Linked DNA regions of Homo sapiens: region 1 is linked to region 2. Evidence: fine-mapped expression QTL. Tissue or cell type: whole blood. Region 2 holds a variant in brackets; the other region holds the start of a gene. All regions are shown on one strand. Distances are from middle to middle.

Evidence for each region. PIP is the estimated chance that this variant, and not a neighbour inherited with it, causes the effect.
Region 1: LINC02273 starts here. The variant in region 2 is fine-mapped to the expression of LINC02273 in whole blood (INTERVAL, PIP above 0.99).

The regions. Positions count from the first base shown.
Region 1 is chr4:152,098,191-152,104,047 of GRCh38, reverse strand. It overlaps LINC02273 (long intergenic non-protein coding RNA 2273), which reads right to left and starts at 3,295. Exons shown (of 3, transcript NR_121628.1): 1 at 3,231-3,295; 2 at 2,468-2,564; 3 at 1-421. RefSeq lists enhancers at 1,143-2,342, 2,637-3,137, 3,237-3,531, 3,138-3,638.
Region 2 is chr4:152,165,081-152,170,937 of GRCh38, reverse strand. No RefSeq gene overlaps it. Among named protein-coding and RNA genes, the nearest start is that of LINC02273, 67 kb to the right of the region's middle. The variant A/G (reference allele first, on the strand shown) is at 3,518.

The DNA of each region.
Region 1 (5,857 bases), 67 kb after region 2:
GCCCTGGGTAAGTGACCTTGGGGAAGGGGAATGGTATCAGTTGGGGTTTTTTGTTGTCGGCAACAGAAAACCATCCAGGCTCACTGGAGCAATGAGAGAATTGAATGAGATGATCTGGAGAGACAGTGATGCCATGGAAGGCTGGAGGACAGGCAGTAACCCTGGCACCTTGGAGAGGGGGAGTAGAAGCCGCAGGAACTGCCCTTTGGTGGAAACACAGTCAGCGCTTGGTGGCTGAAGTGAGTGAACTCAAGAGTCCTAGAGGACAGCTGTCCTGCCGGGTTCCCTGCTGTGCTGGGGCAGGAGGAGGAGGAGGGGTCCAGACTCTTGGCCTCAGTGATGGGAGTCAGGGTACAGGGTTCACATCCTCCCAGGACCACCCAGAGTCCAGGGGGGTGAGCCCTCGAGAGAAAATCAGCAGCTGTCAAAAGAGGAAATGAATGTTGGGAGGCTGAAACAATGACAGATATCTATCGCATAACATTTCCTTGCTTGAAAAAGAGGGGCTGCATTGGACGACCTCTATGCTCCGTCTTCATTAAACATTTACTAAAGCTCTCCTGTCACTGCTTTCTTGAGTTCTGTGCCTTTCTTTGTCTGGGGGTGTTGAGATGCTTTGCTAGGGATGTTTTATTGCCTGCGGTGTCTCCCTTGGCCTTTGGTGTTCCCTGGAGTTCTCCTCAGTGAGGCAAGGGACTCTGTTTGCTCAGGAAGGTCACCAGGCTTAGAGTGCTATAAAAAACCAGGGAACAGCTTCCTGGTATAGATCAGTTTATTAATGTCTTCTTTGTGATCTGTACCAGTTGTAAATATTATATTCATTATAAATAATAATTCAACCTGCCATTCCTTCTCTGGTTCTCAGTCACCTTGTCTATAAAACAAGAGGGTTGAATTAAATGATTATTAAGGTCTCTTTCCTCACTGGCCCTATTGGATTCCATGAAAATTAAACTCCTCTGGGTAGACAGTCTATGGGGCTTGACTGTGAGGCATCCCCCAAGAACTTGGAAATGGGAAATACAATTTCCATCTGAGAGAAAAATTATAAAACCAGCCAGCACCAGATCAAAGAAGATCTATTTAAAGTCTCCTTATATGGACAGGATGAATTTCAGACCAGAGCAGCCTGGACTGACAGCAGGAACATTCTGAGGGACAGAAGGGCCTGTCAGAATGGATGCAGCGTCACAGACACAGAGAGAAATGAGACCGAGGAGGATCGTCGGGATGATTCAAGCTCTGACTGAGACAAGGCTGGGGTGATGGGTGTCCGCACATTAGTAGGCTCTGGGCCTCTCCTGGCTGCATCTCTGTTATGGAGAAGGTGAGGGGCATCCAGCTATCATGACTGGGTGCCCTAAAGCAGGGATGAAAGTCAACATCTTTAACAATCCATACAGCACAGGCACCACCCAAACAGCAAGATCTTCAGCTACAGCTGGAGCAGGGACCTAGGGTCCCCATTCTACCTGCATTTACCTTCTAGTGGCTGGGAGCTCTGTGAGGTCCCTGATATGAGAAGGGCAGTGAGTAGGAGCAGACAGGAGGCTCCAGGAGCAGGCTCCTTACCAATTAGCTCAGGATTTTAGTATGTTGATAACTTAACATGTTTGAGCTATTCGGTTCAACCCCTTTGTCTAATTCTAACTCACTGGGAAATCCCTGGATTGGAATGCAGTTTCCCATATGCTTTGATCTACAGGGAACGAACAGGCATGACTGGCTTACATAATTGTGAGATGACTATATTTTTCAAGGTAAACAGTTTCTGCTTTATCAGTCTCTTAGGAGCCTGGTTACATTGATCAATGTGAATTCACCCCTATGAGAGAAATCCACTCTTAGCTTGCTGACAAAGTCAATTGCCTCAATTACAAAAAAAAAAAAAAAAAAAAGATTCCCGAACTTGCCCCATAGAAGCAAGACAGCCAAGCTTAGAAGCAGCCAGCCCAGCCCTTTTTCAAACTTAGAATCAGTGATCCAAGGGTCCTTTCAGTATTTTTCCACAGGATCTCTGGCTGAATTTCCACAGCATGTGAAAATTCAACTATACACAAGACAGCATGATGCAGCGATTTTCTTTTTTTCTTCTCTCTCTCTCTCTTTTTTTTTTTTTTGCACATTTTATTTTAGTAGCACAACTCTTATTTTCAAATGATCTTACGAAGGACCTCAAGCTGCAGATATTCATGTCTTCACATCAGGCGTCTCTACTTGGGTGTCTGACAGGCACTTAAAATATAAGATGTCCAAAGAGCATTCTGGATGCCCTGCCCCCGCTGCACATGCTCCTCCCTAATGTGCCCTCATCTCTCAGGCCTAACACCTAAAATCATTCTATTCTCAGGTCATCTCTTAGCCTCAAACTCCTGCTTCCAGCTACAAAACATATGTAGAATCCCATCCCTTCCAAGCTAGGGCCCACATAGCTGAAACCTTGTTTTCAGCCAGTATCCCCTCTTACCTGGATGACTGCAACGAACTTATAATAGGTCTTCCCACTTTTATTACTGCTTCCTATACTTCCCTGGATCGGAATGCAGTTTCCCATATGCTTCTACCTACAGGGAAAGAACAGGTATGGCTGGCTTACATAATTGTCAGATGGAGCAACATTTGCTTCACTTAAAATTGTTTTTAGAAGTCTAGACTTTAGAATCTCTACTTGTTAATGACAATATAACAATGACCAATTACTACCATTTTAAACGTATTATTTCTCTATTTAGTGAAATAATACGTTTAAAATGTAGATCAGATGGTGACTTTCACCCTGTTCAAAGTGCTCCAACATCTCCCATCACTCTTAAACTGCAAACTCCTTACCGTGGTCTACCAGGCTCTCTGCCATCTGGTTTCCTGGTAGCCCATTGGCTGAACTGCCAGCTGCTGTCTCCTTGACTCCTGTGGCTCCAGACACACTGGACTTATTGTTGGTTCTCAAATGTGCCAAGCTTGTTCTCTGCTTTGCATTTGCTGTTTCCTCTGCTTAGAACCTCTGGTGCCCTTGACTTTGAATGGCTCACTTCCTCACACCAATCAAGTCTTTGCCTAAAGTCTCTGCCTTTGCTCAGAGAGGCCTTCCCTTGCCACCTCTTTAAAATAGCCTGCCTCACTCCTACTCTCGAGCTCCTCAGTCAGCCCCCACCCAGCACACACCACATTTCATAGTGGATGTTGTTGTGTGCCACTCAGATCCCCTGGCAGAACCGAAAAACGCTTGTCACCTTAGCTGCTGGGAGTGCAGGCTCCACCAACTCACACCTGAGACACTTTCCAAGCATTGCAAAGTGTCAGAGGTGTGTCATTTCCTCTGTCAGAGGAAGCTGCTCCACCCACATGTACACCCACTTCCTGGAGGCAGCTTGCATCCAAAGGCTGGTCACATGGGAGTGCAAATGCCCAGTCCTCCAATCTTAATTAGGACAACACTGCTTGTTGTCCCAAGCTGCAAAGCTCCTCAGGAGGAAGACAGAAAGCAACTTTTCCATCTGTCCGACCTGCGTCCCTCACCCTTCACACTTGTTGCTCCTGAGATCACGCCCCAAAAACCTCCTGCAAATCTCTTTGTCAGAGTCTACTTCCTGCAGAACCTGACCTGTGGGCCTCTACCCCAAATTGTGGGTTTTTAACTTACTTGTTTATTTCCTGTCTCTCCAACAAAGACGTAAGTTCTGTAACAGCAAGGAAAGGTCTATCTTACTCCCCTCTCTATCCTGGCCCAGACGCCTAGACAGTGCCTGGAATACGTGGAAGTTCAATAAATATTGAATGAATAAATGAATGCACCCCCCAATCTATATAATAGATAATAGGGAAACTGTCTTCCTGAAATTGTTTGTGTGTCAGGGGCACTCCTCCCTCTGTCACTCCTCTACCCACCGCTGGAGAAGTACCCAGGGCACCTCAGCAGCACCTTCAGGCAGAGTCAATTTTAGAATCAGGAAAGCAAGATTCATAGCCAGGTTCCATCACTAGCAAGCCCTTCCCAGTATCTCCTGGAGTCAGTATTGGGCCTTGCAGGCTCTTTAGCTTGTTCGACTGCGACAATGAGCGCCACACTCCGCTCCTGGAAAATAAGCTGGGAGAATGGAAAAGCTAATTGAATTGGTTCATCTCTCTGAAGCCAGTGATAAATCTTAGGGGTCTGAAGAAGGCCCTAGGGGATCTAATGCCCCCAGTGAGATCTGGGGTGGGGAAATTGACCTCAGACTCTGAACCTCGAATCAAGAGTGGTTCATTTTTACTACAGAGCCTGGAAGGGAGACTGCTTGGGACCTGCCCTTGGGTGACTCCTGCTGGCCCCTGGGGAGCCAAGTTTTATTCCAGTAGAATGTCCAGGAAGCTGTGCACCCTGGTGACAACTCACTTTCGCCTATGCCTTTAGAGTAAGTCTCCTTCTTGATTTCCAGGATTGGAATTCCCTGGAATGTTCAATGTGCCATCATTACCAGGACATAAAGAATGTTTCTGGGTCAAGAAGGTGCCAGAGATGGTTTAATGCACATCCTCATTACCTAATTGTTTTCTCCTGGTCTCTTCTCCAATTGCTTCCGTGTCTGATGAATTTTTCTCTGCTTTCATATGTGTTTTTGACAGAGACAGGGGAGCAAGGCTATCTGTGGGCTTTAGATCGCCTGACTTTTCTTTTGAGCATGATGAGTTGGAGTTAGATAATGCAGGGAGACCTTCCCCCTGAACCAGGGAGGGAAATGTGGCTGGGAATGCCCACAGACGGGTGATGCCCCTCTGTCCTCAAAGTGTGTTAGACGAGTTCTGCTCTCACCTGCCCCTAGACAAGAGGCAGTCCATTAGATACTTCGCATCTGCGGTAGACTGAACCAGCACCAGCTGTGAGAGTGGCTCTGCAGCTTGGATTTCACTTCCTCCAGAAGGCAGCCAGGACAAATGCTGCTGCTCATTCTCCAGGAGGAGGTTCCAGGATGATCCAGCCATTGTTCCTCTTCGGTAGCACAAAGGCAAGGTTACCCAGAGCGGACCCAGCAAATATCCAACAGCCTTTGAGACAGTCTGGACACATCCACAGTGGTTGTTGGATGGCTCATTACACACTCTCTGAGGAGACTGGTCTCGGGTCCCTAAGCAGATTGATGTTGGCAGTGGCCCGGGAGGCAGGAACATGCATGAAGGACACAGAGGCGAGAGGAGGCGGAGCTGGATGGAGTGCATCTAAGGCCTGGGGCCAGCCAGAGAAGACACATCTCCTCCTCAGCACCACTGAGGCCACACAGCCAGGCTTGTGAGGAGATGCCTCTGAGGACCTCCGAAACACACATCACTGGCTTGAGTATAAGAGGTGCTGGAGCACCTGTAGTAGCAAACATCCTCCTAGAAAGGCAGATAATGCCTCATCTCTGCCAAGGCTAAATTGTTTTTATAACATTCTCATCATTATTCTAAAGAATAAAACCATTACTAGTACATAATGTCCTCATCAGGGTACAAGACAGGCCCCAGGCTCTATTCTTGGCCCTGGCAGTTATCTGGTTGAGTGACTTAGTAATCTAGGCAAGAGCTGCCTCAACCTTTTTTTTTTTTAATTAAATTTTTTAGGCCAGGCACAGTGGCTCACGCCTGTAATGCTAACATTTTGGAGGCCGAGGTGGGAGAGTTGCTTAGGCCAGGAGTTTGAGAGCAGCCTAAGAAACAAAGCAAAACCCCATCTCTACAAACAAACAAAGAAAACAGCCAGGCATGGTGGTGCACCTGTAGTCCCAGGTACTTGGGAGGCTGAGGTGTGAGGATCACTTAAGCCCAGGAGGTAGAGGCTGCAGGGTGCTAGGATTATGCCTCTGCACTCCAGCCTGGGCAACAGAGTGGGACCCTGTCTAAA
Region 2 (5,857 bases):
TTAAATTTTACCTGATTTTAAGTAATCTAAATCTAAATGGCTACATGTGGATAGTTGCTGCCATATTGGACAGCATAGTCCTAGACCACAGATAAATAAGAGAAGCTCTGATATTTGTGAGATGCAGTAGGATTGGTGCACCATACCACTCTCCCACCTACCACACACACTCCACATGCTCTGCTATCAATTTGAACTGGCCTTCGGAGAAGGAAGCTATCGCCAAGGTTGGCTTGGGGATTCACTCCCTGATGCTAGCTTCAAGTTGGGGTCCCCATAAAAGTGAGCCTGGTTTATTGCTTTGCATACAAAAGTATCCAAGAGACCAGATGAGCACAGATAGGAATGTTCCTTAGCCACAGTGGAACAGTTTCTTACTAAGAAATATAACTCTCTGGAAATATTATACTGGCAGATCAATTGAAAGCAATTTGTGTCCACTGTGACTTCCTTTGCAAATGCTGCTCTGAGAACTCAAGCTAAGGGGCTCAGTCAGAATAGGGCTTTGGTCAAAATAGGAAGTATCCATAATGCCTGCTATTTTATAGCATGGGCTAGTCATATCCCATACTGTAAGCAGTTCAAATGTTTGGAAAATTAAGTTGCTTTTGCTCACTCTTATCATGCCTCTGACTCTGCAGAGCGTAGGTAAGTACCAATTTGGAGCCCTACCATTTTTATTTGTTATTTCACCGAGGTAAGCAAGGTGGGAGCTGCCCAAGACAATGAAGGTAGTCATTACCCTTCATTGGGCTAAGTATATAATTTCCCCAGTGATGCGCTGGGTAATAACAAAAACTTATGTGAGGTACATGTAGTGTTATATTCCCTGGGGCTTAATATGGCTCTCAGTAAAATTGATTTTCTGAAATCTTGCAATATACCTCATCAAACTAAATGAAACCTGCACTGGTTTTATAAGAAGTGATTGGATTCCATGTGATAAATTAACCCTCACCGTCAGAGAGGTGCTGGGTAATAGGCTGGTTCATTTCAGCCCCTACAGCTGCCATCCAGGATTTAAATTTCTCCCCAGATCCTTATCTAATCCCCTCTGGGACCCGGAGGAGCTTCCACCCAACTGAGAGCCTTGGAGGGCTTAGCTGGTCTGGCTGAAAATCATTTCTCCCAAGATGGAGATTTATCCCTGTCTCCACGGGAAGGGAGATTGCTGGTGATAGTGGGAGGGCCTTGGAGGTCAGAGAGCAAAGGCGAAGGCACACGGGAGTGCCGGAGCTCTGGGACAATGAGTTTTGTGAATGGTCAGAATGGGGCTGTGTCTGAGAGGAAGACCACCTCTGCTCCTCTGCGATTCTCCCTTTAGCAGCATCAGTGGGTTATGTTAGGAGGTGTGAGGGCCCCTCCTGACCTGCATTTTTACCTTTACATCTTGTGTGTATGTTTATAACACTCAGGTGGCTGAAATTAGCTTTGCCTCTCCAAGAGAAAACAGAGCCTTCCCCCGTAAATAAACATGTGAATCAGGCCTCAGCAACCTAAAGGGGGCATCTTCCTTTGGAAGGGAAAGTAGGTATGACTGGGCTTTGATTCAGCTCATCCCTGGGAGACCGGTTCCTAAGGTAATAATAGCTTGAGGGAAATTACTCCCCACAAATCCTAGGGGAGAAAGTTGGTTTCCTCTGTGAGAGTAACCAACATCCATTAAGCAGGGATACCTACACAAGCATTTCCAAAAGACACAGAGTTTCACAACGATATTGAAATCCAGCTAACAGTATGCACCAAGTGCCTGGGGGAATCAATGGCAAGATTGCTTACCTTGCAGAAAGATACCCTAGATGCGAGCATTGTATTGCTAGAAATCCAACTCTGTTTAGCATGATTAACTTGGCAAGAGTAGGCAGAGCCCCTGAGAGGTGAAAATAGCAGGAGTTTAAACGAACAAGTGCTAGGTCCCCTTTCTACCCATCACAGCTCAGAGTAGATTAATTCTTGGCCCCACTCCCTTCTTCCTTTTCCTAAGGTCCTGCCCAAATTAATAAGTCTTGGGAAAAGCAAAGAACTGACAAGTTCCCCCCAAGTGGCCTGTGCAGTGTCTTGTTTCGCTGGAGGGTAATCTTTTCAGGGAGGAAAACCAAAGTCCAAGAGAGAGCTTTGGGGTTTGTGAACCATTTGCAGGGAGGGGATAAGAAAAATGGGAGAGTTGTTTTCTGTTTAGGAGTATGATGAAGACCAATGTTCCCCAGCCCGAAAGCATAAACTATTTCAGAGCATCTAGGTGTCACAGAGGACAATTTTTCAACGGCAAAAAAAAATGGGTCACATTTTACTTTCAATAATTAACATCACCACACGATATGAGGTTTTTTTTTTTGTTTGTTTGTTTTTTGAGTCAGAGTCTTGCTCTGTTGCCCAGGCTGGAGTGCAATGGCACAATCTCAGCTCACTGCAACTTCCGCCTCCCAGGTTCCAGCATTTCTCCTGCCTCAGCCTCCCAAGTAGCTGGGATTACAGGTATGTGCTACCACTCCTGGATAATTTTTGTATTTTTAGTAGAGACAGGGTTTCACCATGTTGGCCAGGCTGGTCTCGAACTCCTGACCTCAGGTGATCTGCCTGCCTCAGCCTCCCAAAGTGCTGGGATTACAGGCGTGAGCCACCATGCCCGGCCATGATATGAGTTTTGTTTGTAAAAAATGTTTTTAGTTTTGCTATTCAAGTTTATGTTTTCTGTATTAAAAAAATAAAAAGATAGTGGCATGCCGTTGCTCCTGTCTGACTCCTTTCCTATGTAGCTGCGTTCTGATTTATTGCTGTAACCTGGGTGCTGTGCAGATGTCCTGGTGTATAATAAAAGCTCTGTGACTGTTGGTTGAAAGAATATGATGCCAGGATTGCAGAGCTCTTCACTGTGATGTTGTCCAAGAAGCAAATGGTAACCCTGGGCAGGTTCAGGTGGAAGTCTATACTCAGCCAGTGGGGGAAGACCCTGGACCAGGTTGCTGGACTGCTGTTAGTGCCTCTTCCTCCCTTTAGTGTCTCCAAATGAGCAATGCTACTGTGCAATGACTACTTGCTGTTTGGCTTTGTCTCACCCTGTCAAGACGTAGAACGTGACCTTTGGCACCTGGATGCCTTGTTAGGTTTGATGCAGGTTTTAGACTTACTTGAACTTCTCCATCTTTCATTTCACTTTAAAAATGGAGACAATTCACGTAAGAATCTGGGGTTAGCTAGGACCTGCTATCCCTTTATCTTTCTCTTTGACGTCAGTATTCTAAATATACTGAGGTATATGGTTGAGTGTGTGTGAGTGTGTGTGTCTATGCGAGAGAGACAGAGAGAGACAGAGAAAATCAGGAAAAGAATACATAATCTCTCCATGCTGTAACCTCTTTCTGTTTGCAAAGGACACCTTCAAAAGGAGCCCTAGCCCTTTGATAGCATGCTAAAATGTTCATTTTTAATTAGTTTCTACTTCCTTCATTTGCAGCAATTAATCCTGGTTCCTAACTTTCATTTCTATAAATAAAGGTATTTAACAGAATTGTGAGGT[A/G]TTTATATACTCTGTACCTTATGTTCTATCTTGCAAAAGCACATTATTCTAGGAGATGTGTGTGCTCTGACCTTAATCCAGAAGGTGCAAAAAGAAGCAAGTTTTCTACTACTTATGGCTTCTTGAGAGTTGAATCTCTAGCTTCAAGACACTGGTAGGCCCAGAATTGGACAGAAGCGTTGTTTGTCTGGTTCTTATGCCTAGACTGAGCTTCTTTCAAAGGCCATGATGATCTCAGAGACACACTAAGGTGGTGCAGAGCCAGCCCAGCCATGGGAGAACCAAGGAGAGCTTGTAAGTTTTATTGTGGCTGTAGGGCTCGGACAAGGGTACTCAGCCACCTGTTTTCCCAAGTCTGCAATTGCCATCTTCAGGTCTAAGGCCGCTGGGGAGACTTACCCAAGGAAGTAGTGAAGAAACACTGAGTTTTACTGGTCCCATTCCTCAACGTGTATTTATTGAGTGGTAAAAAGTAGACATTGGTGGAAAAAGCACTGCTTCTTATATGGTAATTAAGCCCTATTTTGGTTTCTAATTTGAACAATATGGTCCACACTCCTCTGCTCATAGATGTGATGTGGCTAAAATGTTAGGGAGTGGGCAAAGAAAGGGGGCTGGGAGCAGGGGCTAAGCCCGCACGTGGGCTACTGTCCTTGGTCCTGAACACAAACGTCATCGCATGTTACGACATAGTCACATCTCATAACCCAGAGACACTAATGTCTCCTGTTCAGCCTCTTGGAGAAATCCTGAGTGAGGTAAAGGAAAAGGCAGTGGTAGCAGAGAATGCAGGAGGGTGTCAAAGAGATACAGCTACCGATGGGAAAGAGTATTTTTATTTATAAGGATTAAAAGAGATTTTATTTGGGCAAAAGTGCTCATAGTTTCTCTTTTTAAAAATTATCTTTAAGGGGACAAAATGCAGTTTCTGTCCTGCTATTGAAGAAATGTGGCTGTACCTTATGCTCTACGAAGTGGTTTATGTTGTAGAACGTCTGGCTGGCTTCTTGTAAATTTGACAGTTACAAATAGTTTCTCTTCTGGGGTGTGTGTGTGAGGGTGCCACATGCCCCTGTGCCCCACCACTCCCCGCCCTGTTCCCCCAGGATTCATCAGCCTGACACAGTCACAATAGAGTAACTCCCTTGCTGGGGTGTGCTCTGCCATGATCACTGTTCATTGCCCACCATCGATTCTTAGTTTATATTAAGGATTCATGTAAAAGCCCAGCCGTGCTGTCGGCCTCCTCTCAGATATGTGTTCTCTGCTCTCCTGTACACTTTTCTCCTAAGCTCTCAGAAGAATCTTTCATCTTACCACAATTCATCCCACAATTTCTTGGCCTTGGAAAGGGTTCAGCACAGAGAAGAGAAACCAAGAATAGCTTTTGGAAGTCTCATGCCATGGCTGACAACGTGAGTAGGTTTCTAAGGACTGTGTCTTTTCAGATGGAAACCAAACTCAAGATGTTTTCAATTCCTTGGCAGTCAATCTTCCACCTTGACTTCCACATGTAAGGAGGTGTTTAAAAGTCTATTTACAACTCTTGTATAATGTAAGGGCAAATTATTTTGTTGCTATGTTCGTTCCTGGTTAATTGAGAAAATCATTCTGTTTAGCCAAGAGTAAAACCTCTGAGATTTTTCTTCTCATTTCTCTGCATGTCTGGGGAAACAGGCAGCAGTAAACAATCATGCCCTATTTTATTCCTAGTTAAGTGAATTATCATAATACTAATTACTAGTAAAAACATCTGGTTTTGGCACAGCTCGACACAGGGATTTCTCAGTGCAAGATTTGATATTTGCCCTGAAATCTTAACCTTTGCTGGGCTTCCCAGCTCCTTAGGCTGACCCCTCTAATATTTGAGCTCAAGACCTTCCAAAGCTGATAGTACTTTCAAATTTAGATGAGCTATCCCATAAGAGACTTTTTCTGGTTACTGATATGCACAATACCTTTTTGTATGTCTTTATTGCTTGTTTAATTTTCCATGGAAACCATTCGCATGAAAACAAAGTTTGGTTCCTTACGTCAGTTCCTGTTGCTTCTCCCAGTGTGACCACCTGAGATGATTATCCAGTCACTGTGGAATTTAGCAGGATGCCACTGTGAGAATAAGACACCATCTGCAGGATAATGCTCTGAATCTGGGGGCTGGTGGTGGTGGTGGCTAAAACTCTTGTCAGACTGAAAGCTTGTTTAAAAGCATGCAGTTCCTGAAGTCTGAGCCAACTTTAGTTCTTCCATGGGAAGGTTTTAATGACAAAGAAAAATTAAAGCCATGTATCTCAAAGTGTGGTCTGGGGATCATTTCGTCATAGCCCCATTATTAAATCA